Regions from separate parts of the Homo sapiens genome. Here regions 2, 3 and 4 are each linked to region 1. The links come from fine-mapping of genetic effects on gene expression. A gene starts in region 1. Each other region holds a variant in brackets. All regions are shown on one strand. Distances are between the middles of the regions.

Region 1 (8,000 bases):
TGCCCTTCCCAATCCCATCTTGCTTCACAAGCGGAATAGCTTTTCCACTTCAATCAAATAAACCGTGTATTATTTTTTGTTTTGTTCACTTCCTCCTGTTTCCCTGTCTCGGGTGTATGACCACACCTTCCAGAAATGCCCTCCGCACTCTTTCTGTTATCCATGTGCATTACATCTTCTTCTTTTTCTTTTTTCTTTTCTTTTTTTTTTTTTTTTTGAGATGAAGTCTCACTCTGTCACTCAGGCTGGAGTGCGATCACGTGATCTTGGCTCACTGCAACCTCCGCCTCCTGGGTTCAAGTGATTCTCCTGTCTCTGCCTCCCGAGTAGCTGGGATTACAGGCGTGCACCACCACGCCCGGCTAATTTTTTTGTATTTTTAGTACAGATAGGGTTTTACCATGTTGGCCAGGGTAATCTCAAACTCCTGACCTCAAGTGATCCACCCATCTTGGCCTTCCAAAGTGCTGGGATTACATGTGTGATCCACCACGCCTGGCCTTGCATTACGTCTTCCAAGTGCACGCCATAAGACCTATTCCATGCTGCAGCCTCCCTTCTGTCACTCTTCCTATATTCTGTGTCACTACTCAAATGTCATTTATACTGTAGCACTTATGTGAATATTTTTGTATCATGTATTTTATGTACAGAAAATTTGGAGGAGAAAAGAGGTGATTTTTCTCTACTCATCCTCCTGGAAACTTCTCTTTGGCAAGTTGCTGCCACTGACCCCGCTCTTCCTCCCCTTAATCGTTCTACTGGCTCAAAAACCATAATTAAGGGAGCCAGACTTACATTAAATAAAAAAAAAGACAAAAATGTTTTTCAGAAGCATTCCCTGGAAATGTTTGCTTTAAGTTGAGGTTGGTGGGGCTTGAGCATTCATCTTGACAATAAGAGCAACGAAAGCAGTATCTCTGGTAGCTGATCTCTCTCACCTCTGTCTTTACCTCCAATGACTCCTCTTATTTTTGTCATCAGCAAAATATCTGTATGGGAGGGGAAATTGCTGATGAAATGCTTTTTTGACAGTTAACAAATATTTCCTGAGTGCACACTCTCTACAGATCCTTGGAAGGGCCCATGTGAGAAGTGGATTCGTGACATTCGGCACTGCCCTCTCCTTCAGGAGTCCCTCACCCTTGGGCTTCCGTCAAAGACTCCTGGGTTCTTCCCAACAGCTCTCAGTTACCCTCCTCTTTCTCCCTTGGGTGATGCCCTCTGCTTCCTCCACCCTCAGTGAAGGCACTGCACTCTCCTTTCCTGGCTCCTGGTCCTCACTCTCCCCTCACCCTCCACATGGATGCTGCCCAGAGACACTCCTCCACTTCCCAGCTGCCTGCTGGGGCATTTCCACTGAAAAGTTCCACCATTACTTCATGCTCCATGGAACCTTCAGGAGCTCTCCTGAAAAGCAGCCTCTTTCCATATTGTTCCTATTTCTGATGCTCCAAGGCACCCAGCCTGGAAGCCTCAGCTTTGCCTTTGCCAGTTCCACTCCCTCATTGCACACATCTGGTCACCAAGACATCTGGTCTTCCAAACAAGAGCCCTTCCCTTCCCTTTTCCCTTCCCTTCCCTTCCCTTTTCCCTTCCCTTCCCCTTTTCCTTCCCTGTGCTTCCCTTCCCCTTCTCCTTCCCTTCCCCTTCTCCTGCCTTCCCTCCCTCCCTCCTTTCTCTTTTTCTTCCCTTCCCTTTTTCCTTCCCTTCCTTTTCCCTCCCTTCCCCGTTTCCTTCCCTTCCCTTCCCTTTTTCCTTCCCTTCCCCTTTTTCTTCCCTTCCCCTTTTCCTTACCTTCTGCTTTTCCTTCCCTTCCCCTTCTCTCTCTCCTTCCTTCCTTCATTAGTTCCTTCCTTCCTTCCTTCCCTCCCTCCCTTCCTTCCTTCTCTCCCTCCCTCCCTCCCTCTCTCCTTTCTCTCTTTCTTTTCTTTTCTTTCTTTTTTTGAGACAATTTCATTCTGTTGCCCAGGCTGGAGTCCACTGGGGCAGTCACAGCTCACTGCAACCTCAACCTCCCAGGATCAGTTGATCCTCCCACCTCAGCCTCCTGAGTAGCTGGAACTACAGGCACATGCTACCATGCCTGGCTAATTTGTGTGTGTGTGTGTGTGTGTGTGTGTGTGTGTGTGTGTGTGTGTGTGTGTGTATGCGCTTTTTTTCTTTTTCTTTTTCTTTTTTTTTTGGTAGAGACAGTTTTCGCCATGTTGCCCAGGCTGGTCTTGAATTCCTGTGCTCAGGTGATCCACTGCCTTGGCCTCCCAAAGTGTTGGGATTACAGGCATAAGCCACTGCACCCAGTTGGAAAATTCTTTCCTGTCCCTCCCTGCTGCAACTCCCCATCTACCCCATGACTCTGCTGGTTCCTAGGCCATGGGTCTCCCCCATCTGGTTCCCAGGGCCATTTAGGTGCCCTCTATTGCATGCAGGTTCCATTCTAGTCATTTTGAGGTGTCCAAGTACTGTTTGGTTGCCTTGAGCCCCCTCACTTTGGCATTTGATGCCTTTTCCACCCTCTGACCCCATCCACCTTTCTAGTATGCCTCATCCCATTTTCTAGCATGTGTGTCCTGCCCCAGGCAGCCTCTGCTCAGGAAAGCTGGTCCACCCTCTGGGCACTGTTCACACACCCCATCACCTTGGCTGTCTTCCCCAACCTAGACCTGCTAACTCTGGAATAGTGCAATACCGCTTCCTCCAAAAAGACTCCCTTGACCATGCTGCCCACTTGGGATAAGTAGCATCTTTTTTTTTTTTTCTTTCTTTCCTGGCAATGAATCACTATTATTAGGTCGGAGCAAAAGTAACTGTGGCTTTTCCCATTGAAAGTAATAGCAAAACTGCAATTACTTTTGCACCAACCTATTACTTTTTCAAGTCCTTTTATATTGTTTTGAATTGTTAAGTTTTCAAGGGTCTATTTCATTCAATATGTCAGCAAACATGTATTAAGTACAGGTTGGGCAGGGCGCAGTGGCTCACATCTGTAATCCCAGCACTTTGGGAGGCCGAGGCGGGTAGATTACTTAAGGTCAGGAGTTCGAGACCAGCCTGACCAACGTGGTGAAACCCCGTCTCTACTAAAAACACAAAAATTAGCCGCGCGTAGTGGTGGCCACCTGTAGTCCCAGCTACTCGGGAGGCTGAGGCACGAGAATCGCTTGAACCCGGGAGGCAGAGGCAATGAGCCGAGATCGCGCTACTGCACTCCAGCCTGGGCAAAACAGCAAGACTCCATCTCCAAAAAAAAAAAAAAAAAAAAAAAGTACAGGTTGTTGTTTTCTCAGGGAATCCTCATAGCTGGTGAAGTATCCAGCTTTTCATTTTACGGATGAGTGAACTGGGGTTTAGAACTGATAACATTTTGCCCAAGTTCTCACAGCTAGCGAGAGGCGTGCCGCAGTTTATCGTGGGGTGGGTCTAAACAAGGACCTAAAAACTGTATTCGAATCCCAGCCCTACTACCGCCAGCTGTGTGACCTTACGAGGCGCCTCACTTTACTGTTTCTCCAACAGAGACAGACATTTCTTGTTACCGCGCAAGTGGGATAACCTCCCCACCAGTGTCTAGACACAGTAGGTGCTCAATAAATAGGTGTGGGTTTGCGGTGGCAGAAGAGCGCTATCCCTTAAGTTTCTGACAGTGAGGGGGAAAAAGGCTAAGCAGGGAAAGGAAGGGAAAGGGGTAAACTGAGCTCGGCGCAGTCGAGAGCGCGAAATAGGGAGGGCTTCCTGCAGGCCAGGAATTTGGAGAGGCCGAGGCTGGGAGAAGAAAAATGCCCGGTGACGGCGGAGGGGAGGTGGAAGGACGAACGGCTCCGGGAAGGGGTGAGGTCTAAGCGCAGCCCCGGGCCCAGCGGAGCCGAGGGCGGGTGGTGCGGGGGTTCCTGGGTAGGTTCGTCCCGACGGGCCGCGGGCGGATTGAAGGGAGGGTTGGGCCCGCCGGCAGCCCCGGCGGGTCCAGGCCCCCGGCCAGCCCCTGCCCCTCCTCCCAGGAGGGCGGGCGGCGACTGCGGGGCGGGGCGCGGGCTCGCTCGGCCTCCCGGCGGCGCCGCGGCCCTTGCACTCCGGCCGGGCTCTGCTGGCTGCGGCGGGAGCTGGACGCGGGAGGAGGCGGCGGCGGCGGTGAGTGAGCTCCGGGCTGGAGCGGGGCGGGGTGTGCGCCGGCAGCCGGGTTTCGGGGTGCTAGGGGCCGCCCAGGGCGGCGGGACCCCCAGGGGTTCGGGCTCAGCCAGGTGCACTGTGCTCAGTCCGCGCGTCCACTCTCGGTGACCCGCGCCGCGCGTGTCCTGGGGCTCGAAGATGCGACCCGGACTCCCGCGCCGCGCCCCGCCGAGGGCAGGCGCAGAACAGATGCGGGCGATCCCTGGGGAACCCGCTTCGGGGCGGGGTGGGAGGGAGGAGGCCCTGCAGAACCTCCCTTTAGTGAAGAGGGACTTTCTGCCTTCGCACCCCTGCCTGGACCCTCCGGCTCTAGTGACAGCTGGGAGAGACTCACACGAAGCAGTTTCTGACCTATCCTGTCGTACACAAGTCCTCGGCGTGCTCGGCCGGACCATCCCCTGGAAAGAAAGGGGCGTGTGACCTTTCTCTCCCCGATCCTCCAGACCACTGCGCCGCCCAGGGAGGTCATCCCCGAGAGAGCCCCCGCCTCACTCGGAGCACACATTCTAGCTCTCCCCGGGACTTTTCCAAGTTGCATCACTGTTTGGCCTCTAGACAGGTACTTGGCTGTCATGTTGGAGTTAGTTACACAGGATTTTTGAAACTTTGTATATTTGCTTTGTGTGTTCTTCACCCTAAGGCCGCTGCCCTCCCGACTCTGCTTATGCCGCTCAAAACGTTGCTCAAAGCTCGCTGGGAATGCTTTTGCGGGCATTGGTTCTCAAACTTGGCCCCACATCTGGAGAGTTTTAAAAAATACTGGTGCCTGTGTCCCACTCCCAGAGATCTGGATTCGGCTTGCCTGGGTTGCAGCCTGGACAATGGAATTTTTAAGACGCCGCAGGTGATTCTAATGTGCAGGCAAGTTTGAAAACCTCTGCTTTGAGAGTTGCTCCCACCAGCCACTCTTCGGACGGCTCAAGATCAGTCCTGATCTAGAACTCATCTCAGGTCCTCATAGCTCTTCCCTAATCCACCTCTCCACCTGAAGAACCTGTTGATTGGTGCTTTCCAACTTTAGACAGTAGATGGTGCCTTTACTGAAGATCCCTTTGTTTCTACCTCTCTGTTTACAGTCAATACTGCCAGGGCACTTTCTGCCAAGGAGGTGGGAGTGTAGGCATTAGAACCGAGCAGTCCTTGTCAGGGTCAAGGTTATAATACAGGGTTGTCCTATTCAGGGAAAACCAAGTGATAATTTGACTTGTCATATTCGGGAATGATTTCAGATTAAAAGGAGAAAAAATACTTTAGGGTTTGGTCAGCTTTTGGAGACCCTCCGGAGACTCCCCCACGTAGATAATGGAGTTGCATAAATGTGGAGAATTTTCCTTCAAAAAGCCAAAGCTAACAACATCCTTAAGGTTTTGTGGTTGATATTTGTGTTAACATAAGTCCATTTTTGTAGATTAAACTTATTCTGGAAGTATGATGAAGCCCTGCAGACAGAACACAGTGTATAACATGGCACATCTGAGATGACACCTGAGACACCTGTCACATGGTCTTAAAAATGATAGAGAAGTAGGACTAAGGAAAATGTAACCATGCTTATATTGGCTAAATTAGGTCATATATTTTATCAAGAAAATGTGTTTTCACTGCCCTTTTTAGTAATGTGATAGTCTCCGGGGATCTTGGTTAATTTACTTTTGTACCCCAAATATGATGTTTGCATTAAAATTTCCACCCTGATGTTGCTACCTGACCACAAATCAGTGGTTTTAAGTTTTTCTTAGGGGGTGGCCCTCTATGTGTTTTTTTTTTTTTTTTTTTTTTTTTTTTTTTTTTTGAGACAGAGTTTTGCTCTTGTCGCCCAGGCTGGAGTGCAATGGTGCAATCTCAGCTTACGGCAGCCTCGGCCTCCCTGGTTCAAATGATTCTCCTGCCTCAGCCTCCCAAGTAGCTGGGATTACAGGCACCCGCTACCATGCTCGGCTACTTTTTTGTATTTTTAGTAGAGACAGGGTTTCGCCATGTTGTCCAGGCTGTTCTCAAACTCCTGACCTCAGGTGATCTGCCCACCTCGGCCTCTCAAAGTGCTGGGATTACAGGCATGAGCCACCGTGCCCCGCCTGTATTTTTATTAACAGTGGGATGACATCCTTCCAAGAATGCCTTGCTGAAGTGAAAGAACATTTACATTCATTTCTAGCTGCTAATGTAAGTCCAAAGAACATTCATTTTGAAAAATACAAAAATGACATAATTTTGCCCACTTGGTTTTCTCGCTTTTCCCCAACTTCCACGACCATGCTCTGCTGCTACTACTGTATTCACTTGCTGGAGGTGTGCACCCTGTGGGAGCCGTCTTCATTGTCTTGGCTTTGGCTTGAAATGGAGGTTACATGCAGCGCATTGTCTTACAGGGTGTCCCCTGACCCGAATCATCACCCTTTGGGGAGCAAGACTATATGGAAAGTGTTTTCCTACTGTTTTTTTTGTGTGTGTGTGTGTGAGTGAGTGAGACCATGCCAACAAAATGAAGCCATATTATTAAATGGTTTGTTAACTTCCAAATCTTGTCTCAATTGGGAAAAGAAAAATGCTTATTCGAGGATGCTGTTGAATTCATGGTGTCTGAAAAGTCACCCCTGAACAGCAATAGTTACACTGTGAATATAATAATACACTCTACCCCCCCAAAAAGAAAAGTTTATGTAAATGTGGGCCTAAGCACATTTATTGCAATTTCTCACTTTGGAGTAGCAGCTCTAATATCCTAAAGTGATTAGAAGAAAGTAAGTGAAGAAAAATATGAAGAAAGGGTTAGTGAGATACTTTTTCATTTAGGGAAAGGGGATACAGCAACTAGAAAAGGCCTTGGGTTTGTGTTAAGAATTTATTGCCCTGGTGGCTTCCTTTTTTTCTTTGTTTAATTTGCTTGTGCTGATGGGTGAGGGAGAGTTAAAGAAATTTAATGGCCTCCTAACTCTCTTTCCCCGTGAAACCCATTTATCTAAGAGATGCCATTGGCCTTTTAAAAATATCCAACTGATTTTATGCTTTTCCTTTCTTTTCATCTTCTGATCTCGGCACTAAAGGGCGGTGGCATGGCTGAGAGGTTGGCATCAGAGCAGGAAAACAAAGTTCAAGGGGAAACCAAAAATTGGGTAATTTTCTCTGAATGACCAAGTGCTTACTTTTTTCAGGCATGTGACATTGCTGTTATCAAGAAACCAGTTATGACATGAAAATCCTGAAAATGGAAAAGGAAAAAAGAAAAAAAAAGGGAATGGGGTGGGGGATGGAAATAGCACCAGGGTTGACTGACCTTTACCGAGGAGGGAAGGCTTAGTGTTTTCAGCCTGGTGTCCCCCGTGTCCCGATTGCAGCCCCCTGTACTTCTCTCCTCATGCACCCTCCTGCATCCCTCAAGCCAATATCCTTGGGGGAGATAGTGCTTCATCTTAAATTCACACTAAGGTGTCTTTTTGTTTTTGTTATTTGAGACTCTGCTCTGTCACCCAGGCTGGAGTGCAGTGATGTGATCTCAGCTCACTGCAACCTCCGCCTCCCGGGTTAAAGCAATCCTCCCTGCCTCAGCCTCCTGAGTAGCTGGAATTACAGGCATGCGCCACCATACCCCGCTTATTTTTGTATTTTTAGTAGAGATGGGGTTTCACCATGTTGGCCAGGCTGGTCTCGAACTCCTGACCTCAGGTGATCCACCTGCCTCGGCCTCCCAAAGTGCTCCGATTACAGGCATGAGCCACTGTGCCCAGCTGTTAGTAGCCCCTGTTACTAGCAAAAGCTATGTATTACCCAGAGTTGTTGGTAAACAGGATAAGGTTCCTGCCTTAAGGGGCCTGAGTCAGGTGGGGATGTAAACCCTG
Region 2 (8,000 bases), 100 kb after region 1:
TAAACCCAGCTTTGTCATTGACTTCATAGAATTCTCCTAGTCTTTCTCTGTTTTTATTTCCTCTCTTGTAAAGGGATACTATTTGTGTTATAAAAAACATACATAATATATTGCTATACATGCATATGTGCTTGTGCACATATGGATTATTTCAAGAGGGAGATAACTAGTCAATAGTGGTTACTTCTGGGGATATGTAGGGGGATGGAGTAAGAGGAAAACTTTCAAAAAACAGTGTGTAAACCTTTCATATCTTTTGAATTTATTCCATGTACAGTGAAATAAGAGTATTGATCTGCACCTCTCCTAAGGCAGGTCAAGAAGAAGTCCTAAGTTTAGTGAAGTATTTTTAATTTTTTGTCACTGGGGGCCCCTGCCTCTGCCTTGACCTTGACCTTCACCTTCTGTCTGCTACCCAGGTCTGTGGCTTCCACATCCACAGCAGCTCAGTTCCATCCTCTGACCTCCTTTCTCACAGTTGCTGCCCTGGTTCAGGCCTCAGCAGCCATCTCCCTATTTCCCCAACTGTGTTGCCCCCTTCTGACCACACCACCTGCCGCAGGTTGGCCACCCTCACAAGTCCCTGGTGGCTTCCCTTCAGTTACAGAGTCCTGCCTGGTCTCCAAGGCCTGCACTCCACCACCTGGCTCCCACCTGCCTTTGCAACCCTGGCCCTCACTGTTGTCCCTGGTGAGCTTGGTGCCAGCCACACTAAAGGATTCCCTGTCACCTCCACAGAAGAGTGTGCCCTGTTACTCCGTATTAGCCACCTCTGGGACTTTGCTTTGCAATCCTGACCTGCAAGAAAGGACAGTCCCCACAACAGAGACATATCTGACCCAAAATGTCAATCATGTCACTCTGAGAAACTGGGATCTATGTATATACAAGTGTGGTGTGTGTGTGTGTGTGTGTGTGTGTGTGTGTGTGTGTGTGTGTTTTCTTTTCTTCTCTTTTTACATAAATGCCTGCTGTGCAACCCCAAGCCTAGTTAATGAGCAATAGATGGAGTGACTGAATACTTTTGACACACCACATCTCTGATCCCAAAGAATCTTCTTCTTGCAGTGGGGAAAATAATCCTCCCAGGGCTGTACGTATTCCAGCCTCAGACTGTCTTTTCTGACCTGCTGTCCTGTGCTCTCTCACTGGATTCTCTGCGTGTGCCCTAGTGGTCTCCCTGCTTGCTTTCTTCTTTCCCCCGGCTCATATTAGCCTGTCTGTCCCCAACATCCTTCACCAGCCCCCGAGCTATGGTCTCCGCCATTTAAAATCGTGCCATCCTTCATGGCTCAGGTCAGATGACATCTCCTTCTTGGGTCCACCCAGCAGCTGCTGTTCTTTCTCTTTGAAATCCCCAGGGTCTTTTGTCCCTCGGGTGGCATTTATTGTGTTTTGCTTTGCCTGTAGTTTTTGTTTGTTTACTCAACACATCAAGCATCATGCGAAATCTGGGGTGCAGAGATGGACAAGGTGGCCTCTGCTCTCAACTCTTCCCCAGCCTAGTAGAGACAGACAAGAAAGCTGACAGCCAGTTCGGTGTGGGGCATGAGAAGCTGGCATATGGCACGGAAAGCAGAAGTTCGGAAAAGGGTGACTTTGCTCCGTGTAGGCAGGCCAGGGCGGGTTCCTAAGAGGGAGTGAGGCTTGGGTGAGTCTTGGGGGCAGTGGGAATTAGCAAGGTGACTTATGGGTGGGCAAGGACATTCTAGACGCAGGGAACTTCTTGAACCAAAGTATGTCTTGTTCTCCTCTGAGACTTGAACACCTCTTTAGGGGTAACCATTTTCCTTATTCATTTTTATGCCTTTTATAGTTTTACCTTAGACAGCTAATAGTTTTGTTTGCATTCATGTATTTATTCATTCAACAAATATTCTTGAGTGCTTATTTACTTGAGGTACTGGATAGATGTAAATGGATTTAGGCAAATAGTTGGTGACAGAAGAATTCAGTAGAAACCATCAGAGTAGTAGGCGGCCTCTGAAGTGATTAGATGTGGTTTAGTGAGTTTTAGCTACAGAGTAAGTCATGTGTTCACGGTGACCACACGTTAGAATTCTGGAAATGTGGGCCAGAACAAGTCCAAGTTAGATGCAATGGAAAAATCCCTCTGTCCGAGTCATCTCTAGGGAACAGAACTTGTTTGAACCAGCATTATTAGTTTAGTTTCATGAAAGACAAAATAAAGGGCAAGGTGTTTGCTCCACAGGGTGACTGCAGCAGTTTTCACAGTAATGAATAAAGTAATGCTGTTTTGTCAGCAGTGAGTAGGAGTTGGGGACTGGGAGAAGCTTGTTCCATTCCTCAGGAAATTCCAAAGTCATGCACGGGCCTTATCCTTGGGGAACTTACAGATGAAGGAGAGAATATGGCCAAGCACACATATTTCTCCTTTTAACACTTCCCTTCTTTTTCTTTCTTTTTGTTTTATTTGTTAAATTTCTGCACATGTTTCTCAAGTGTGTGGTCTAGTGGGAAGGAATACTGGCAGTCTCTGGGTTTAGGGAAACATTGAGTCCCCTTACAGTTAGAAATAAAAGGCTGGACGTGCTTCAAAGACTTTTTGAAATAAGGCTGGGGACAAAGAAGTCAAGCAAATAAATGATAGAGTCCAGAGAAGGTGGCATTAGAGATAGATCTGAAAGCATTCAGGGAGACGTGGTGCAGGAGGATGGGAAAATCTTGTTTTTTCCATCCCTGAATTGTCCAAGAGCCCAAAGACATCTACTCTGCAAAGTGTTTGCTGGATGACAGTGCAACGAAGACTTAGATGCTAGCAAACTTCGTTGGAAAACACTGGGTTCTTCATGTATTTGGAGCAAGAACCAAGGCATTAGTAAACTTTGGAAAATAGGCAGTGAGGTTGTCCGATAGAGTCCATCTGGGGAAGTATTTTGAGCCAGTTGGGTTTATAACTATGACCCTAAACTTGAGTCCAGCATATGCCAAGTCCAAAGGAAAGGTATGTTCTTTGGACCCCTCATGCTCTCTGATTTACAGGGACCTCTTTCTGCCTGGTCAAGGCATTTCATGACTCTAAGCCTATGACTTTTTGTGAGAAGAAGCCTTCCATGGCTCCTTTGCTGCTTGGTTTTGGGGTTTTGGAGGCACCAGGATGCCAGGCTCCTACCCTGTGTGCAGTGCTTCCTTCTCCCCGTCCCATTGTGAACTGTTTCCCTTGCAGGTTCAACTCATTGCCACTTCCTGTAGCTGTCTTAGTGACCCTTCAGGCCAGAAGCAGATGCCTGTGCTGTGTACCATGCCCCTCCTGCTGCTGAACTGGAGAGAAAACGTGGCTGGCAGGTGGTGAACTCTCTGGCTGATTCAGGCCCAGTGGAGAAGGAGGGTTAATAATTTACTTTGCCCCTGTGTAGCCACTGGTGTTGACCTTGTCAAAACACTAGTAGAAATTAATTAGAGTCTGGCCTGTCATTTAACTAACAGGATAGTAAGGCCCCAAAATAACTTCTTGTTTTGAGGTTAATCCTGTCTCTGAGTTTACGGCTGACATTCCTGTACATCCGGCCCTGTTTGCATCCAGCAGCCAGGACCGTGGGCTCATGGTGTTCATGGGGCTCACAAAGAGGGCACACAAGGTCAGGGGCCTGTCTCTCCATGGGAGCCGCTCATTGTGGTAGGAGGACAAAGGCCACAGTGATCAAGATGCTCTGTAGGAGAGGCGGCAGAACAACATGTGGGCCTGGTAGATATTGCAGGTGAAGAGCCTCCCCATCCCCCAAGCTTCTTTCATTTTAAATTCACAGCTTTTGTTTCTTGAGAAGTTCCGAATCTTTTGCATCTGGTGCTGCGAGAAGGTTCACCTGGTTAAACATCCTCAAGTCA[A/G]CAGCACAGCTCCTTCTGGAAGGCACTTTAACTGGATGGGATCCTCTCACTGTAGACATTGCTACCTCCCTTTCCTGAAATAAAGCCTGCTCCAGAGCAGTGATTGTCTTGTGGTGTGTTGTGGAAAGCTGTTAATAGCTTAAAAGGTCTCATTAGCTGCTAGATAGGCCTAGACTGTGAAAGGATACATGGTGACCCAAGGGTAGATTCTTTTTTTGAGAGTCTCGCACTGTCACCCAGGCTGTAGTGCAGTGGCATAATCATGGCTCGCTGCTGCCTCGACCTCCCAGGCTCAAGTCATCCTTCCAGCTCAGCCTACAGAGTAGCTGGGACTACAAGTGAGTGTCACTACCTCTGGCTACTTTTTGTATTTTTTTTAGAGATGGGGTTTTGCCGTGTTGCTCATGTTGGTATCGAACTCCTGGGCTCAAGTGGTTCTCCCACCTCTGCCTCCCAAAGTGCTGGGATAGCAGGTGTGAGCTACAGCTCCTGGCCCAGATTCTTACCTTATTAGGGAGTATCTAAATTAATCTGTTTATTGATCTCTTAAGTAGAATCTGATTAATTGTCCATCAATAGCTAGCTGCAAAGCACTGCAGAAGCCCACTTGCCACTCTCCTTCCCCCAGCTCTCCAGGAAGGTGCAAGGAGTTGTTTGAGATGGTTCTGACATCCAGCTTTTGGGTCCCTGGTTTATTGCCTTTTCCAGTACATTGGCTGGCACCTTTATCCAGCCAACAAATACACGCTCTGTAAACATGCATGTACTTTTGGAGAAGGCAGTTGGACCAAGGTGAGGGTGTGGAGGATGGGAGTGAAAAACAGAGTAAGCCAGAAAAAGGGGTCATGGGAAAGGAAGGGCAGGAGCTAGAGGGAAGAGGCCTGGGGACTGACTAGTGCCCAGCAATAGAAACAATCAGCATTAGAAATGGGCAAAGGGGCTGGGCATGGTGGCTCATGCCTATAATCCTAGCACTTTGGGAGGCCAAGGCGGGCAGATCTCCTGAGGTCAGGGGCTCAAGACCAGCCTGGCCAACACTGTGAAACCCTGTCTCTACTAAAAATACAAAAATTAGCTGGGCATGGTGGTGCATGCTTGTAATCCTAGCTAGTTGGGAGGCTGAGGCAGGAGAATCGCTTAAACGCAGTAGGTGGAGGTTGCAGTGAGCCGAGATTGTGCCACTGCACTTCAGCCTGGGTGATGGAATGAGACTCCTTCTCAAGAAACAAAAAACAAAACAAAATGAAACAGGCAGAGCAGTTTGAAGAAACTTCTCAAGAAACAAAAAACAAAACAAAACAGGCAGAGCAGTTTGAAGTATGATGGGAATGAGGTACAGGGGAGGCAGGAAGGAGAAAAGTGCAAAGGGATAGTGAGAAGATGGGAGGTGGTGTGGAGAGGAAGCAGGGAAGCTGGTAGCACCAAGAAGTGAAAGAGGAGTTTGAGCTAAATATCTAGAGGATAAAGGGGGAAAAGATGAGTCTGAAAGGTATGAGAGGGTGACAGCAAAGGACAGAGGAGAAGCCGTGAGCTACATATTATGCCAGGTGAGATTTCTGCTCCAGGAATTTTGGCTCACGGTTATCCCAAAGAGCTGTGGCAGCAAGTGTTGGTTTTATTGCAGTATTAGCAGTATGTGGTTACTAAATAAGTGACTTTTGAAATAAAGTGTGAACTGTGAGACTCTAGAAGAGGATAAATGAAACTTTTATCACCTGAGATGGGTAATTTTTATACCTCTTATTTCTAGGGTCTCTCTATCCACAGCATTGAGCATGGGTATGAAAATATGCATTGAGGCCAGGAGCTCACGCCTGTAATCTTAGCACTTTGGGAGGTCGAGGTGGGTGGATCACCTGAGGTCAGGAGTTTGAGACCCGCCTGGCCAACATAGTAAAACCCTGTCTCTACTTAAAATACAAAGAAATTTGTTGGGTGTGGTGGTGTACATTTGTAATCCCAGCTACTTGGGATGGTGAGGCAGGAGAATTGCTTGAACTCAGGAGGCGGAGGTTGCAGTGAGCTGAGATCCTGCCATTGCACTCCAGCCTGGACAACAGAGTGAGACTCTGTCTCAAAAAAAGAAAAAAAGAAAGAAAATATGCATTGAATGTAATACTTTAAAAAGTTACAACCATCATTTGTCTGTGGGGGAAAATACCATAGTCCAGTTAGTTGTACCTGTCTCTAGTGGTCTTTGGGCAGGAGTTTGAAGAGATCATTGGAAAGACATCAGAAGAATTTAAATGACCCATATCCCGTCTTTCAGAATGAAACTAATATTCATTAAAAAAAATTGTATGCTCTGGCTGAGAATTTATACAGCCTTCTAAAGAGGAGACAGGTATGCTTTTGGTTTCCAGTGATCAGTCTGTGAACTTGGGGCATTACTCAGTGGATCTGGAACCTTCTTACTCTCACCAGTTGGTTTAGGCCATCCCCCTTCCTCTTGAAACCAACTTTGTTTGATATGTCATTGTAGATTTTCTATTATTTCCCCCAAATCATTCCTTAATGAACAGTACACCTTAAATGCCTTCTCTTTGTATCCAGAAATTATCAGCTCAACCAATAAATAGTATGTTTGTTAGTCAAGCCAGTGATCCAGGAAAGACCTGGGGTTTTTTTTTTTTTTTTTTTTTTAAAGATGGGCAAAGTTTAAAAAAGAATTTTTAAAAAATCAAACGTTTTGAGATAGTTATAAATTTATATGCAATTGTAAAAAAAAATACAGCTAGATGCCATATACCCTTTATCCTGTTTCCCCCAAATGTAATGTATTGCAAACTATAGTACAATAGCATGACCAGGATACTGACATTGATACAGCTGAGATATAGAACATTTACATCACTCCCCGCATTCTTCATGTTGTCCTTTTATAGCCATGCCATCTCGCTTTCCCTCCCATCCCTCCTTGACCCAACTAGTGTACTTCTCTCTGGTTTTTAAATTTTATCATTTCCAGGATGGTATATAGATGGAATCATACAGAATGTAACCTTTTGGAATTGGCTTTTTTCTCTCAGCATTGTTCTCTGGAGATTCCTCCAAGCTGCTGCATGTATCAACAGGTTCTTTCCTTTTTATTGCTCAGTGGTATTCTATAGTATAGATGCACCACAGTTTGTTCAACCATTCACTCATTGAAGGACTTATGGGATGTTTCTTGTTTTGTACTATTATAATAAAGCTTCTATGAACACAGCTTTTTGTGTGAATATGTTTTAATTTTTTTCTGGGATAAATAGGAGTGTGAATATGTTTTAATTTTTTTCTTGGATAAATATCTAGGAGTGTGAATGTGATTTAATTTTTTTCTGAGATAAATATCTAGGAGTGCAATTGCTAGGATGAATGGTAATTACATGTTTAGCTTTTAAAGAACCTGCAAAACTACTCTCCAGAATGGCTGCACCATTTTGCATTCCCAACAGCAATGTATGAGTGACCCAGTTTCTCTGAATTGTTCCCAGCATTTGGCATTGTCAATATGTTGTATTTTAGCCATTCTGATAGGTATATGTGATATTATATTGTGGTTTTACGCAGTTTTCTAATGGCCAATCATGTTGAATGTCATTTCATGTGCTCTTTTGCCACGTATATCCTCTTTGGTGAAATATCTATTCATGTCTTTTGCCCATTTCCTAATTGGATTGTTTGGGGTTTGTTTTTTTTTTAAACTGTTGAGTTTTCAAAATTTTTTATGTATTCTAGATATGAGCACTTTGTCAAATATGTGGTTTGTAAAGACATTCTTCCAATCTCTAGTAAAACAAAACAAAACAAAACAAAACAAAAAACCTTTTTAACAAGGTCTTTGAAAGGTACAAGTCTTTAGTTTTGATGAAGTCCAATTTAGTTTTTCCTTCTATGGATTGTGCTTTTGGTGTCAAGTCTAAGAATTATTTTCCTACCTTAGATCCCAGAGATTTTCTTCTGTGTTTTTGTTTTCTAAAGGTTTCTTAGTTTTGCATTTTACATTTAAGCTCACAGTCCATTTTGAGTTAAATTTTGTGTAAGGTGGAAGTTTAGTTTGAGGTTTATTTATTTTGCCTGTGAATATCCAGTTGCTCCAGCGCCATTTGTTGAGAGGGTTATTCTTCCTGCAATAATTGCTTTTGAACCTCTGTAAAAGTGGGTTGGGCATT
Region 3 (8,000 bases), 75 kb after region 1:
CCATTGGAAAGCCAGCCATCATTCTTAGTGTTATTCTCTTGAAAGTGATGTGTCTTTTCCCTCTGGGTGCTTTTAATAATTTATCTTTATTGTCAATTGTTAGATTTTGACTATGACGTGCCTAAGAGTGGTTTTTCTTTTATTTATTTTTCTTGGGGTTCAATGAGCTCTCGACTTGATAGGTTCATCAGATTTGAAAAATTCTTGGCTATTATTTATTTGAATATTGCTTCTTTCACATTCGGTCTCTCCCAGCTCTTCTCAGACTCCAATTACATGTATCTTAGAAATTTTGATGGTGTTCCTCATATCTCTTGTGCTCTATTCTCTCTCTTTTCGTGTGTGTGTGTGTGTGTGTGTGTGTGTGTGTGTGTGTGTATGTTGTATGTTTGGGGCATCAGATATTCTGGATATTTTCTATTGACCTTTCAAATTCATTAGTCTTGTTTTCTGGCTACGTCAATCTTACTTTAAGACTTTCTCTTTTAAGATGTCTTTAAAAGAATGTTTTTCTTCATCCTTCATTTAAAGGATGGTTCTTTTAAGAACTTTTCTTTGGCCAGGTGCAGTGGTTCATGCCTGTAATCCTGGGAGTTTGGGAGGCCGAGGTGGGAGGATTGTTTGAGGCCAGGAGTTTGAGACCAGCCTGAGCAACATAGTGAGATCCCATCTCTACAAAAACCATATTTAAAAATTGCCAGGCATGGTGGCTCATGCTTGTAGTCATAACTGCTCAGGAGGCTGAGGTAGGAGGATCACTTGAGCTTAGAAGTTTGAGATTACAGTGAGCTGTGATCCAGTGAGTTCTTAACTTTCAGATATTGTGTACTGCTGTTTTAGAGTGTCTACTTGGTTATATTTTTATAGAATCTATCTCTGGAACTTGATTAAAAAAAAAGGGCCAGGCATGGTGGTTCATGCCTGTAATCCCAGAACTTTGGGAGGCCAAGGTGGGTGGATCACCTGAGATCGGGAGTTCCAGATCATCCTGGTCAACATGGTGAAACCCTGTCTCTACTAAAAATACAAAATTAACCAGGTGTGATGGTGCGCACCTGTAACCCCAGCTATTTGGGAGGCTGAGGCAGGAGAATTGTTTGAACCCAGAAGATAGAGGTTGCAGTGAGCCAAGATCTGGCCAATGCACTCCAGCCTGGATGACAGAGCAAGACTCTGTCTCAAAAGAAAAAAAAAACAAAAACCCTTTGTCCATAATTGTTTCTATTTTAAAAATATTAGTTATAGTTAATTTGTAGTCCTTATCTGTTAACTTTAACATCTGGGTCATCTCTATGTCTGTTGTTTATTTTATTTAGTTACTGGTTAGTTCTTCCTACTTCTTTGCATGTCTAAGGATTTTTTTTTTTAATTGTATGCTAGACCGAGTGGGTGATGAGTTATAGATGTTCTGGAATGTGTTATCTCCCCCTGAAGAATGTTAAGTTTTGTTTTGACAGACAGTTAAATTACTTACAGATTACCTTGATTCTATATGGTTGGTTGTTCTAGGCATTATTAGGGAGTGTCTATTTAAGTTTTTGCCCTTACTCTTAAGACATGACCCATGTTCCTTTCTTGGATTTCAAATGAATGCCAGAATGTCCACCAAGGTTTCTCTATTTTGGTTGAGTTGGAACCCTAGTGTCTCCCTAGCATTGGGCAACCTGTGAAGTTTCTGTTGGGTTCTTTGCCTCCTAATAGGTCTTCTCTGCAGTCCTCTTGAACTCTTGCTCTGCTCATATACAGCTTAGGATATCATCCAAGAATCCAGGGAGTATTTATTGTAGGTTCTTGGAACTTCTTCTGTGGACCTCTCTCCTCTCTCATACCCTGACCTTGAAATCCCTGTTGCTTACTATCTCTAAACTCTAATCTCTATTTCTTTCATCAGTGAGTTGCCACTCTGGACACTTTTCTCACTTAAATTAACAAACCTTATTTTTCAGAATAGTTTTAGGTTCTCAGTGAAATTGAGTGGAAAGTGCAGACAGTTCCCGTTTACTGTCCTGTCCCCACATACGCCCTCCACCACTGTTAGCATCCTATAGCATGGAGCGCACCTCTCACAATCAGGGGACCTACACTGGCACATCATTATCACTCAAAGACGTCCATAGTTTACGTTAGTGTTCACTCTTGGTGTTGCACATTCTACAGGCTTCTGACAAATGAACAATGACATGTATCTATCATTTAGTATCATAAAGAATAGTTTCACTGCCCTAAAAATCCTGTGTGTTCTGCCTGTTTGTTCCTTTCTCTCCCCTAACCTCTGGCAACCCGTAATCTTTTTATGGTTTCCAAGGTTTTATTTTTTCTGGAGTGTTCTGTAGTTGGAATCACACAGTATATCACCTTTTCAGTTTGGCTCATTTCCCTTAGTAGTGTGCATTTTTTCCCATGCGTTTTGATGGATTGGTAGTTCATTTCATTTTAGTATTGAGTATTAATATTCCATTGTCTGATATACCACAATTTATACATTCACCTTTTAAGGGCATCTTGATTGCTTCCAAGTTTTGTTAGTTATGAATAAGGCTGCTTTAAACGTTCACGTACAGGTTTTTGTGTGGACATGAGACTTCAACTAATTTGGGTAAACACCCAGAGGGCAGCTTCTGGGTTGTATGGTAAGAGCATGTTTAGTTTTGTAGGAAACAACCATACCATTTTCTAAATTATCTGTATCATGTTGCATTCCCACAAGCAAAGAATGAGTTTCTGTTACTCCACATCCTTGCCACCATTTGGTGTTGCCAGTGTTTTGAATTTTGGCCATCCTAATTCGTATATATTGGTATCTCGTTGGTTTGTCTGTTTGTTTTTTGAGATGGAGTCTTGCCCTGTCACCCAGTCTGGAGTGCAGTAGCATGATCTTGGCTCACTGCAACCTCCACTTCGTGGGTTCAAGCGATTCTTCTGCCTCAGCCTCCTGAGTAGCTGGGACTACAGACGTGTGCCACTACGCCCGGCTAATTTTTGTATTTTTAGCAGAGATGGGGTTTCACCACGTTGGCCAGGCTGGTCTCAGACTCCTGACCTCAGGTGATCGTTCTGCCTCGGCCTCCCAAAGTACTGGGATTACTGCATGAGCCGCCCCACCCAGCCTCATTGTTGTTTTAATTTGCAATTTCCTAATGACATTGTCTGTGCTTATAAAATTTTATTGTGCTGTGGTTTGGAAATGGAGTCATGGAGAACCCAGGGTGAATGTGGGGCTACCTCCTGTCTTTTCCTTTGTAAGGATCATAACTCTGTGTTGCTTGCTTTTCAGTGCCTGTCAACAATTGTTTTATATATTTTTGTCTAGCTTTCATAGTTTTTGCTGGGAGGGTAAATCTGATATTTGCTACTCTATCATGGCAAAACCAGAATTCTAACAATCATTTACTGAGATTTGATTAAATTTATGAGATACATTGGGTTCTGTAGATACAGAGGTGCATAAAACCTGGTCCCTGCCCCATAAAAGTTCATAATCTCCTGATGTAGTAATTCTCAAACCACTCTTAAGAAACACTAAAGCTAAACTGTATTCTGCCATTAAAATAGAAAAAATGACTGTCTTTACTTACAAAAAGATTTTGTTGCTGATTTTTTGCTAACCATTGATTTCCATGCTCTGGAATATAGAATTTATTATGGAGAGGCTTTTTAAGTTTTATTATCCTAAATTTAATGCATTGCTATTTTATAATATTCTACAGAATACATTACGGACTTCTAACAAATATGCCATGTATGCAAGTTTTAGTCATATTGGACTAGTGTTGATATACCTGATGAAACAATACCTGTGATTGGTAAATGCTGTAGAATAAAGTTCACTGGAGTCCCAAGGCAGGCAGTAACATTAACTCTGCCCACCAAGTCAGGGAAGGTTCCCTGAAGGGGTTGATGTTTGAATTGGGTCTTAAAATGTTTAGTGTTATGCCTCATCTGTTACTGCACTGATTATATTTGGAGGGGGAAGATAATTAAAATAAAGCACCCTGAACATTTAAATTAGTATATCTTTGCAATTAATTATAGGCTTGTAATTCCACATCTGAAGTCAAAGATCTATTGGAACAGAAAAGCAAGTTGACCATAGAAGTGGCTGAACTTCAGAGACAGCTTCAACTGGAAGTCAAGGTATCTGGTTTTTCCTTTATGTTATTTTTTCCATTTCTGTCTTGGTTGATAAAGAATATTTTACATGCATTGGGATAACCAGAGTGAAAGCCAATTTTTTTTCCCCCAAAAGAAACATTCCTCTAATCACTGAATAAATTCCTGTGTATTTGGCTGCTGCTGTCCAAAGAATTTTTTTTTTTAATGTAACCAAAGCCTATAGAGACTGTTTGCTTAGACAGAGTAAAAGAAACCCTGTTGGATTTAGGCAGGCCAATGGGAAACTAAATGTATATAAAACATCTGAACTAAATCATAGAAATAGCAGAATGAGGTTTGGCTGTGTTTGTGTTTTCTTTTACAAGTATTACAGTTCATTAAATATAAATGTTTGATGTTCTTTCTAGTTAAGAACTCCTGTGCCTTAATTATATAGTTTGATTAAGTTGTTTAATAATGTAAGTGCAAAGATATGGAGTCTGCTTGTTGAGAAGTAGGCTTCTGTGGGGTTACGTTAATGTACAGTGGAGGCTCTTTAAAATCACACTGATTCCTGTTAGAATCAACAGAACATTAAAGAAGAGAGAGAGAGGATGAGAGCAAACCTAGAAGAGCTCCGAAGCCAACACAACGAAAAGGTGGAGGAGAACTCCACATTGCAGCAACGACTGGAAGAAAGTGAAGGGGAGCTCCGGAAGAATCTGGAGGAGTAAGTTCTGGGCTGAGAGCCTGTTGCCCTTCCCAGGTTCTCTATGACATGTAGCTAGAAACTTTCTGTCCATTTAATACTACCCAGCCTTCCA[A/G]ATATTTATAAAGGCAGCTGGCTTTTCCTTTTCTTCCTCTTATCTTTGTAAAATTATGAAGCTGGCGACACATGTAGACTGATAAACAAAAAGGTTAGTAATTCTTAACATTCTTTGTGCACCTTGAAGTATACGTTACAAAGTTTCAGTCCTTAAAGTGGACCTCCTAGCAGGTAAGTGGGAAGCAGGGAGCACTGAGCGCTGATACTGAAAGACAGAGTTCAAGGAGCCTGGGCCCAGCTTCTAAAAAGCATGTGTTACGTGGCCCCCGTGAGCTCTCAGCCTGTGCATTTTATCCTCGATGGTGCTGGTGTTTGTGATGGGTGCTTATACCTCCTCTGAGTCTACAGAGAAGGAAAGTTAGGTCCAAGATGCCCCTGCCATTGTGTTGTATTAAAAGCTGTGGCAAAGGAATCGAAAACCAAGGTCTAAGAATAAACAGTGCTATGACGTTCTGTGGACACGACAGAAGCCTTAAGTGGAAAGTCAAGTGGGAATGAAATCTAGGGGGAAGTTCAAGAAAAAGAGGACATTATATAATAAAAGCATTTGATTGTCCTTGCAGTTTTGATGGTGGTGTTTTGCGTTTAAAACAATCATAGATGCTAATTGCAGAAAAGAGTTTAGTAAGAAAAAAATCAGAAAATATAGGGTATAGTAAAAGTTTTACAAAATAAAAAGGTATAGTAGTTGTGAGTTTGGTTCAGGACAGAGTTTTGTAAACTTTTTTTTCATCAGGTGGTGATTATTTTAGGGTTTGTGGGTCATATAGTCTGTTGCACATACTCAGCTCTGCCATTGTGTCGTGAAATGAAATGGCTGCTCATAAATGAATGAGCATGACCATGTTCCAGTAAAACTTTACACTAACAGGCAGTGGGCTGAACTGGCCCACAGACCATAATTTGCCAACTCTCCTGGTCTAGAACACTGGGATAGTAGACAGTGGAAGGATGGGGTGGCTTTAGTGGGAAATTTTTCTGTTTCATTTCTTTATCTTCTGCATCCAAATTCTAGTACCCTACCATCTCCTTTTGGGGAGAAAATGTCTCCGTATAACCATACCCACTTTGTTGGTTTGAGTTCTCATTTATCCTCTTGTAAGCAATTAGACCATAGCCTAAGTTCTTCTCAGCCACCTTTTCAGGTTGGTGATCCCTTGCTCAGTGCAGAACAGAGAATGGGGAGGCTCCTTGGGGCTTTAGAGACTTGTGTAACCCTCTGAAGATCAGAAATCAGACTGGATGGAAATAAGCAGAGCCCAGAAGAGCCTGTCTAATGGGCTTCCTTCCCTGCCAGGCTATTCCAGGTGAAGATGGAACGGGAGCAGCATCAGACTGAGATCAGGGATCTCCAGGACCAGCTCTCAGAAATGCACGATGAACTGGACAGTGCAAAGCGATCGGAGGACAGGGAGAAGGGAGCTCTGATTGAGGTAAGCAGGGCTGTGGGGTCAGGTGATAAGACAGGCCCCACCTGCCTGGAAAGATGGAGTGGCTAGGGTTTGTGGACTGCAAGCCACTTTCTGATGTGCACACCTGCTCCACCTGTGCTCTTATGATCTGTGAGTCAGTGGATGCGCTTGATTCTCTCCTCTCAGCTTGGCATTTGCTAATTATTATGGGTTTTTATTATGTATTCTCTCTTCTCTAGATTATTATCTTGTTGAGGTATTAGATTCACATGTATGAAATTATTAGCAAGAATGTTGGTTTTCAATATGTACATTTTTGGGAGAGGGAATAAGTATAATTGAGGGTCAGAAAAAGACAGGACTTTTATCTCTGCACCCATTTAGGTGTTTGATGTTTGCTGTAACATTATCATCACCTGTATTCTAGCATAGTTTTGGAACCTACTTCTTTATAAGTGTGGTTTGTAGGAATAGCCCAACAAAGAGATGATAAACAATTTAGAACAAAGCCAAAAAAATTAAAAGTCAAAACATAAAGGTACTGTGTTAATATTTAATTTTCTACTTCCTCCCTCTTTGGGCTTAGGTGTTTTCTCTCTCCCTTACTTGGGGCTAGAAGCTTCTGGCTCTGAAGTCCCTGGAACACTCTTTAAGTCTCAGTTGTCTACTGTTCTGTCACTCCTTTCCTCCTCCAGTTTTGAAATAATTCCTCAGGAGAGATTTTAGGTCCTACTTTTTAGAACTTAGCCTTTCTTCACCCGATGACCTGGCAGGAGCTCAGAGATGAGTGACTCTGGTCACCCAGCCCAGGAGTTCTCATGAATCCATTTTTCACATTGGCAGAGGAGGGTGATTGCCTCTTCTCCATATATGACCATCTCTCTTTCCCTATTCAGACCTTTTCTCCTGAGAAGCCCTCAGCATTGTTCCTTACCAACTGGGATTCCTCTTTTTATCAAATGATTCCTTAAAAACCACCACATTCTTGGTATAATACTGCTTCTCATGGTGCTGTTTTCTCTCAGGGCTCAGAGTTACAAAGACAAGAAGATATATGTATTTATCACTGAAATAATATTAAAACAACATAAAACGAAAATTGAAAAAAGGGGGAGGGGGGGACGTACACATACTTTCCTAATACCTGAGCAGCCATTTTTATTTCTATAATCTCTGTTTGCCTCCCTATCTATTGATAGCTTTCATCTACCCATGTATATATAATATAAGGACAATCATAATGTCCCTACAGTTTTGATACCTGCTTTTAAAAGTTAAGATATCAAAAATGTTCTTTCTTATTATACTTTATGCTCTTTGTATTTAATTTTTAAGAAGATAAACCACAATATATTTAACCATTCTCCTACATTTTTTTTCCCTTTTTTGTAATTTTGAAACAAAGATTGTGGGGAACATTTTTTACATTTATACTTTTACTACTTTAAAAATTGTTTCTAAGAATAAGTTTCCAGAAATGATGTCAATGAACAATTTATGGCTTTCAATAAAAGTGTAGCTTCATGAACAAATTTAAATAGAAGATAAAACATTGTCATATTCTTGATTCCTTGTGTGAACATTTTATTGGTTCTAAAAGGGAAAGATGTTATCTTAGCTCTTGGGAAGTCTCTGAAGTTGCTGATTTTCCGCAGTAACTGACAGCTGTC
Region 4 (8,000 bases), 23 kb before region 1:
ATGGTCTCGATCTCCTGACCTTGTGATCTGCCCGCCTCGGCCTCCCAAAGTGCTGGGATTACAAGGGTGAGCCACTGCGCCTGGCCGAAAAAGCCTTCTTGACTGAGAGCATGCTGCGGGTTAGGGAAGGGAGAGGTTACCTCTGGATCAGAGGTTGGAGAAGAATATAATTAAAGGAGTTTAAACTGAACTGGAGTGACACATAAATCATGCGAAATATATGTGAATGTGTTTCTTAAGTAAAATTAAAAAGTCCTCCAGGGGGATGTGCTTCTCCCATGCTCAAAGCTGACAAATCTTGGAGATGCCTGGTGCCCCAACCAAAGGTCATTTCCCAGCCTTTCTCTGAGAACAGAGAACACATTTCTCACGGAAGCAACATTATAAGTGGTGGTTGGGTTCCCAAGATCCCCATCAAAAGTTTATTTGCCCAGTTTAAAGGCTGCGCATTTGCACCTGAAGTAGGTAGGGCCCTTGCAAAGGCTAGCAGTTGGATAACATTAAGTTACATGTCAAGCCAGTCAAGATATGTGCCCTGCAATCCTCAGGAGTTGCTTGTGGAATTCAGAGGAGGAAGGGAGCATCTTCCAGTTAGGTGGCTAGGGAAGCAGTGGGATTTGAGCTGGGCTTGGAGTGGTGGATACATTTCAGTGACAGTAACAACCCCTCTGTCCTTCTTACTCAACTTTGCTAAGAAAAATTCTGAACTTTACAAATTATCCTTGAATCAGGCCCAGTGAGTTATGCGGAAATGTTAGAGCAAGCCCAAACCAGCTGGGACAGACGTAAATGTGTTCTGGATGTGCTGACTTGATCATAAGGTCCTCAGGTCTTCAGGATCCTGTAAGATGACCATCACCACACCACACTTCAGATTCCAGGGCCTTGCCTCCCTAGCCTGACATCTCACCTCCACCTCTGTCAAAATTTCAGAATCAGGTTGGGTCTTATCTTTGTTCTTATTTTTGATGTCCCATATAAACCCTTCTTCAACTGATCTTTTCCACCAGGCCCATAACTTCTTTCTTTGTTTTTTTTTTTTTTTTTTTAGACGGAGTCTCGCTCTATCACCAGGATGGAGTGCAGTGGCACGATCTTGGCTCACTGCAACCTCCACCTTCCGGGTTCAAGCAATTCTCCTGCCTCAGCCTCCTGAGTAGCTGGGACTACAGGAACCAGCCACCACACCCAGCCAATTTTTTGTATTTTAGTAGATACAGGGTTTCACCATGTTGGCCAGGATGGTCTCAATATCTTGACCTCATGATCCACCCACCTTGGCCTCCCAAAGTGCTGGGATTACAGGCGTGAGCCACCGTGCCCAGCCTCTTTCTAAGCCAGCATCCAGAACACAGATACAAGACTCATTAGGTAGGTTCAAAAAACAGGTCTCCAATGGCTTCCTTATTTCAGGAAGCACTGAATTAATTATTTCCACTCAGGAAAAGACTATGTTGGAGTCCATTGCTGCTTCTCGATCCCAAGTGAACTCCAGGAAGAAGCAAATGAAAAGCAATCATAGGCCGGGTGCGGTGGCTCGTACCTGTAATCACAGCACTTTGGGAGGCCAAGGCAGATGGATCACCTGATGTCAGGAGTTCAAGACCAGCCTGGCCAACATGGAGAAATCCCATCTCTACTAAAAATACAAAAATTAGCCGGGTATGGTGGCAAGTGCCTGTAATTCCAGCTACTTGGGAGACTGAGGCGAGAGAATCACTTGAACCCGGGAGGCGGATGTTATAGTGAGCTGAGATCGTGCCACTGCACTCCAGCCTGGGAGACAAGAGTGAAACTCTGTCTCAATAAAAAAAAAAGAAAGAAAAGAAAGAAAATAAAAGCATCGATAGTGTATATAGATCAAAGGAGGAAGGGACATTTTCCTTAGAATAAAACTTTAATAACGAAAACAATAAACTCCCTCCTTTCCACTCGTAGAATAGTCAAGCACTCATTTCTCATTTGCTTCTCAGCCATCAGCTGTCCTAATCTGTTATCTATTACGCTGTGTAACGAAACTCGTCCCAATCTAGTAGCTGAAAGCAACAACCATTTATTATGGCACATGTCTACATGGTGGCTGGGTGGTTTTGGTGATTTGGGCCCAGGCTGGCTGAATCCAGGTGGGCTTGTTCAGTGGTCCCTGGCAGTTGGGTTGGGGGCTGGCCTGTCTAGCATGGCCTCAGGTAGGAAGAGTTGGCTCTGCTCCACAGACTGACCCGTGCCTGTTCTCTTCCTCTGGCAGGTTAGTCCAGGCTTGTTCTCTCAGTGGAGACAGGGGTCCTACGAGAAGAGCAGAAGCAGTAAAGGCCTCATGAGGCCTGGACTTAAAGGACACATTGCCAGTTCCGCTATATTCTGTTGGCCAAAGCAGGCCAGCCAAGATACAAGCGGGGGGAGAAAATATGCTCTACCTTTTAATGAGGCATTGCAAACTCACATTGCCAAGGGTGTGGATACAGAAGGTCACTAGTTGTGGCCATGAATGCCATCCATCTATCAGACCTGCCAACGTAGTTTTTCTTTTAGGGGCGGACTTAGTCCGATTTCAGACATTAGTAAAACTGATTCGGATTCCATTTCCAAATTCCTAATTCCAAGAGAACTGGAAAAGCAGAGCGTGCCAACCTCTTATAATCCTTCTTAATGTGACAAATGTTTCTACAGCGTCCACTGAGCCAGGCTCAGTAGGTCCCTGGGACATATATGAAACAACAGTTCTCCTGCCCTCCAGGTGCTCAGCACAGCAGGAGAATCCCGGCTGGGAACAGAGAGCAAAGCGACCACATAGCTCTAGTGGGAATCCTGGGGAAGTGGTATGTGGTCTTGAATAGTGACTTAGAGTTTTCCAGAAAGAGAAGGAAGGGGAGTTCATTCTAGAGGCCTGGAGGATGTAAAGATGGTTGTGTTTTCATGAAACCGAGCTGTGGACACAAAGGGCAAGGCCAAGGTTGCAAGGGGCCTTGCCCGACTCTCTGTGGAGAGAGGATTTTATTGTGAAGGGTCCACGAAGTCACCGCAGGGCTTCAGCTGGATGAGTGTGCTCTGCTTGGCCTGTTGGAAAGATTGCTGGGGCAGCAGGGAGGTGAAGAGGAAGCTAAAGATAGGGTGACCAGTTGGGAGACTATTTCCAGTCCAAATACATCCTCTTGGGTTTGAGTTTCTGTGACCGTCCTCCTGCTGGCTGGAACTGGGAGGTCCTCTGGGGTCTCTAAACGCTCTCAGTTGCTTGCCTAGAGTTATGCAAGCGGGCGTGGGGTCGGGGCAGGACCAGGAAGCTTTGCGCTTTCTGCTCTTGGCTGATTTCATAACAGGTTAGCTTTTAAACTTCTGGCTCATTCCAGACACTATGCCTCTGGCCCTGGGAGAGAACTTGGTCTCCCAGACCGCGCATAACATTTCCACTTTCCGGCAAACACAGTCTGTGCGTGATCAGGTGAGGCTGGCGCACACAAATCCTTGATGTCTAGACCGCCTTTCTCCAGCTGCTGTGTTTACTGCAGAAAGGTTCCATCCTGGGATGATCGCCTGGGGGGAGTTTTCTTCTTGCGACACCTAGTTCAGCTCTGCTGAGCTTTTGGATTCCCAGCCTTTCTCCCACCACAACCCGGTGGTCATGAAGTCTCACAGGAAGTGTGGTAGGCACAATAATGGTCCCCAAGGATGTCTAGGCCCCCATCCCTGCAACCTGTAAGTGTGTTGTTACACGGCCAAGGGGATTGAATTAACAGATGGAATGAAGGTTGCTAATCAGCTGACTTTAATACAGGGAAATGAGCCTGGATTATCCAGGTGGGGCCAATATCATCATCAAGGTCCTTAATAGTGGAAGAGGAGGCAGCAGAGGAGCGCAGAGTGTTGCTTTGTGAGAAGGACCCGCCCAGCGTTGCTGGCCTTTAAGATGGAGGAAGGGGGCCGTGTGGTAGGAGTGTGGGGGCCTCAGGAGGGAAGGAAATTGGCTCTCCCAGGAGCTTCCAGAAAGGAATGCACCCCTGCTGACACTTTGATTTTGGCCCCAGTGAGCCTCGTGTTGGACTCCTGGACTACGGAGCTGTAAGATAATAAATGTGTGCTGTTTTAAGCCAGTAGCTTTGTGGTAATTGGTTACAGCAGGCATGGGAAAGCAGTGCAGGGTGTGTGAGCTGAACCCTTGAAGACGGGGTTCTCCACTACGTCCCCAGTGTGGAGCACAAGCTGGCTCTATGCCCGGTGCTCGGAAGCATTTTCAGAATGAACAGGACTGAC[T/G]GAGATGAAGCCGCAGACATCTGCTCTCTCCAGGCCCCTATCTGGCTGTGTGACCATAGGTGGGTCCCTTCACTTTCAGTGACTATGTTCCCATGTCTCTTAAGGCAGTTGATGACCTCAAGGGTGGGTGACTTTTGAAGTGACTCTCAGATGTGTTACCACTGGAGCCACCGCCAGATCTCCTGACTCTCCTCTCTCTGACTGGTCTCATTCTTAGTCTAATACCATCATTCTCCAATGCTAAGGTCATTAATTAGCACCCCAGGCCCTCACTGACTCTGCTCTCACCCTGTCTCTGGGGCTCCCTGCCTACAGGTTCACTGCGGAGGTCATGGTAGACGTTGCTGCCCAGAACCTCCAACCGTAGGAAACCTCTCCTCCTTATTCTCAGCCATGAAGTGTGGGAGCAAAACTGCTACACAGTTTTGCTCAGGGTCAGACGCTGGGACATCCCCAGGGCCTGTAATGCTGGTCTCACCAGAGCTTTGACTGTGAATGCTGCTTTTCCTCATAGCAGTGTGTGGCCCCTAAGGTCCCCTATTCAATGACCAGGGACAATCATCAAATCAATGCAAAGAGAAAATGAAGCCTTGTGTTTCTATCTAACGGGTGAGCTACACTGGAAGTATAAGAAGTACTTATGGGGAAATCTGCTTTCCTGACTCTTACTTCTGTTTCCAGAGGGTGATATAATGTGTGTAAATGCAGATTCAGCTTCGAGGAAACTTTCGTCTAATAATGAACTGAACCACATTATGGCATGCTATCTCCAAGGTATGATAGTATCTGTTATACTCATGGGGTCCAAATTTTCTTTAGCTTAGAGGTTATTCTACTTTAGAGCAGGAGTTCTCTATTTTGGCCACCCACTAAGAATCACTCGAGGGGAGTATTTAAAAATCCAAGCCAGGCTGCACTCTAGAGCCACAGAATCACTGGGCTGAAACAGTTCCCCAGGTGACGCTGATGTGCAGCGCGGGTTGAGAACCACTCCACTGCCTTAGCTAACACTGGCTACTCTTGCCTTTGCCTTTGCTATTTACAAAAACAATTATTTTTTAGTATCTAAAGGCCAACATCAATAAACCCTTACTTGTTATACTAGAAGATGCTCTGTCCTCATTGACCTGAGTCCCATCTTAGTGGGGCTTATTATAATGACCCAGGCACGTGAGTCTCATGCAAACCAGTGGGGCAGGCTCTTGGGAGCAGTGGCTTCTGCATTATGCCTGGAATGCAGGAATACATGGGGATCAGTCCGACTGACAAATGCAACTCACCCAAAGTGACTATGAATGACTGCAAGGGCATCTGGGTACAGCAGTGGGACTGTAGTTCAGGTCAGGGATCTGGTCTCTGGTGTTGGCCCTGGGCAGGGAGGGAGCTCTAACAGGAACCGAGGCACCCAGTGTGGTACCTGCAGTTTCCCTGACCCCCACTGCAATCCTTCACCCCCGGGCTCCCCTTGGTTTCCCTGCCTCACCCACAGTCATTGGCCTCAGCTGGTAAAGGGCAGCTTGAGCCAGTGCGTCCTCGGAGCGTTAGTCCCAGCCAGTTTTTGCTGACTCCTCTCCCTTCCCAGCTGCCATGGCAAGTGGGTGCCCAGTCCCACAGCAGCCTCTCTTTCCTAAGTAAAATCCCACGCCCCGTGGCTAACTGTTCACAACCTGAAGGAAGAAATGTTCTACTTTCAAAGGAAAAACAGCCCTCCTTCCATGTAGCTCGCCAGCTGCCCACCGCTAGCCAGGTGTCGCTTGCAATCCATGGACACCGTTCCCGTAGCAACCCCAGGTGACTGTCACAGCTGCCCCTGACACAAACTGCTTTAGCAAAGGGGTGTCAAAAAATATTTTAAAAACAAGTTTTAAACACAATTTTTAGGGAGAAATCAAGAGGGTTCTCAACTGAGGTAATTGACCGACTTGGTGGGGGTTCAGTCCATGAATGTAGCTTCACTCTTGTGGCTATTAATGGCAGGGAGGTGGGGGGACAGTTGGTATAAAGGCAATGAGACTACATATCAAGATGGAAGGGGGCATCCTAGGCTTGGCATGGTATTTGGAAACCTTGACTAGCCTTTTATGCCCAATGCTGTTTGGAAATCTTGCTGGGAATCACAGAAGCTATAGATGCTTAATGGTGTCAGCACTGATATGCGCCACCATCAGCTTGAATTACATATTAACCACCCATCTGCATTTAATCCCTATACCTGGCCATCTTCTGATGAGACGAGCTATTTCCTCTCTCTCCTCTCTTGTACTCTCCAGTGGATAAGTGAGTTTCTCTCCATGCCTTCTCTGGAGTGGGCTGTTTCGCCCACTGGAGGGGGATTCTCAAGGTCTCCACCACTCCTTGGAAAAATGGGGTGAGGACTCCAGGGCTGGGAAAGGGAAAGTGTAAGATGATCCTGAACCAGCTTATGGTGCCTGGAAGTAAGGAAATGCTAGAAAAATGGTGAGAACATGTCAGAAGATCACAGGAGCCAGCTTGAAAGGGCTCAAAACAGCCAAACCTAGGGAATCTGAGCAATAAGAGAAATAATAACAGTGGATTGTGACCTGTAGAGTACAATGGATGTATTCTGCTAAGTGAGAGAAGCCAGACCCCAAAGTCTACATACTCAAATCCACTTATATGACATTCTGGAAAAGGCAAAACTATAAGGACAAAAACCAGATCAGTGGTTGCCAAAAATAGGAGGTGTGGGGGGGTTGATTAAGCTGTATGAGGGATTTTGGGGGCTGATGCAGCTGTTCTGTTGCATGACTGTGGTGTAGATACATGACTCTACATTGTCAAAACTCATAGAACTGCAAACTACAGAGAGTGAATTTTACTGAATGTAAATTTTAAAAAATTAAGATGTTTGGGAGCCCCAAATGGAACCCAATTACAAATAAACCCAACCAGGCTGGGCATGGTGGCTCACACAGGTAATCCTAGCACTTTGGGAGGCCGAGGTGGGCAGATTGCCTGAGCCCAGGAGTTTGAGACCAGCCTGGGGAACATAGCAAAATCCCGTCTCTACAAAAAATACAAAATTAGCCAGGCATGGTGGCGCATGCCTGCAGTCCTAGCTACTCAGGGACTGAGGCGAGAGGATCACTTAAGCCTAGGAGATTGAGGCTGCAATGAGCTGAGATCATGCCACTACATTCCATACATTCCAGCCTCAATGACAGAGTGAGTCCCTGTCTCTTAGAAATAAAAAAAAACAAAAGAACCCAACCATAATACAGATGAATAACATAACCACACTGAAGGGGGTAGGGAAGAAAAGAACCAACCTGAGTACCCAGGGAAAATAGGGTTTTGACTTGATACACAAATACTGTATGGTTAATACACTTCTCATGGGCGGGGGGTGGAGGTTAGGAATTCTGCAACTACTTTCTGTGTATACTAAAGCTGAAAAAATAGGTACAGCTGACCCTTCAACAACACAAGCTTAAACTTCAAGGGTGCACTTATCCAAGGATTGTCTTTCACTTCTGCCACCCTCGAGGTAGCAAGACCAACCCCTCTTCTTTCTCCTCCTCAGCCTACTCAGTGTAAAGACGATGAGGATGAAGACCTTTAGGATGACCACCTTCTACTTAATGAACAGTAAATATATTTTCTCTTTTTTATGATTTTCTTAAGAACATTTCATTTTCTCTAACTGTATTTTAAGAATATGTAATAAATACATGCAAATCAACTTATCAGTAAGGCTTCTAGTCAACAGTATGCTATTAGTATTAATAGTTAAG

Direction of the effects. Alleles are on the strand shown, and positions count from the first base shown. SD is a standard deviation of normalised expression in the study named. Not every link is listed here.
For the expression in pancreas of the gene that starts at base 4,063 in region 1, allele A in region 2 goes with a higher level than allele G (small effect, 0.32 SD a copy in GTEx).
In carriers of allele G in region 4, the expression in skeletal muscle of the gene that starts at base 4,063 in region 1 tends to be higher than with T alone (moderate effect, 0.46 SD a copy in FUSION).

The links. PIP is the estimated chance that this variant, and not a neighbour inherited with it, causes the effect.
Region 2: its variant is fine-mapped to the expression of CGNL1 in pancreas (GTEx, PIP 0.93).
Region 3: its variant is fine-mapped to the expression of CGNL1 in lung (TOPMed, PIP above 0.99).
Region 4: its variant is fine-mapped to the expression of CGNL1 in skeletal muscle (FUSION, PIP 0.95).

The regions. Positions count from the first base shown.
Region 1 is chr15:57,372,443-57,380,442 of GRCh38, forward strand. It overlaps CGNL1 (cingulin like 1), which reads left to right and starts at 4,063. Exons shown (of 19, transcript NM_032866.5): 1 at 4,063-4,125.
Region 2 is chr15:57,474,598-57,482,597 of GRCh38, forward strand. All of the region lies in intron 8 of CGNL1 (cingulin like 1), which reads left to right. Among named protein-coding and RNA genes, the nearest start is that of CGNL1, 100 kb to the left of the region's middle. RefSeq lists an enhancer at 566-1,065. The variant A/G (reference allele first, on the strand shown) is at 3,847.
Region 3 is chr15:57,447,468-57,455,467 of GRCh38, forward strand. CGNL1 (cingulin like 1) reads left to right here. Exons shown (of 19, transcript NM_032866.5): 5 at 4,033-4,134; 6 at 4,674-4,822; 7 at 6,216-6,351. Among named protein-coding and RNA genes, the nearest start is that of CGNL1, 75 kb to the left of the region's middle. The variant A/G (reference allele first, on the strand shown) is at 4,917.
Region 4 is chr15:57,349,443-57,357,442 of GRCh38, forward strand. No RefSeq gene overlaps it. Among named protein-coding and RNA genes, the nearest start is that of CGNL1, 23 kb to the right of the region's middle. RefSeq lists an enhancer at 6,049-6,770. The variant T/G (reference allele first, on the strand shown) is at 4,246.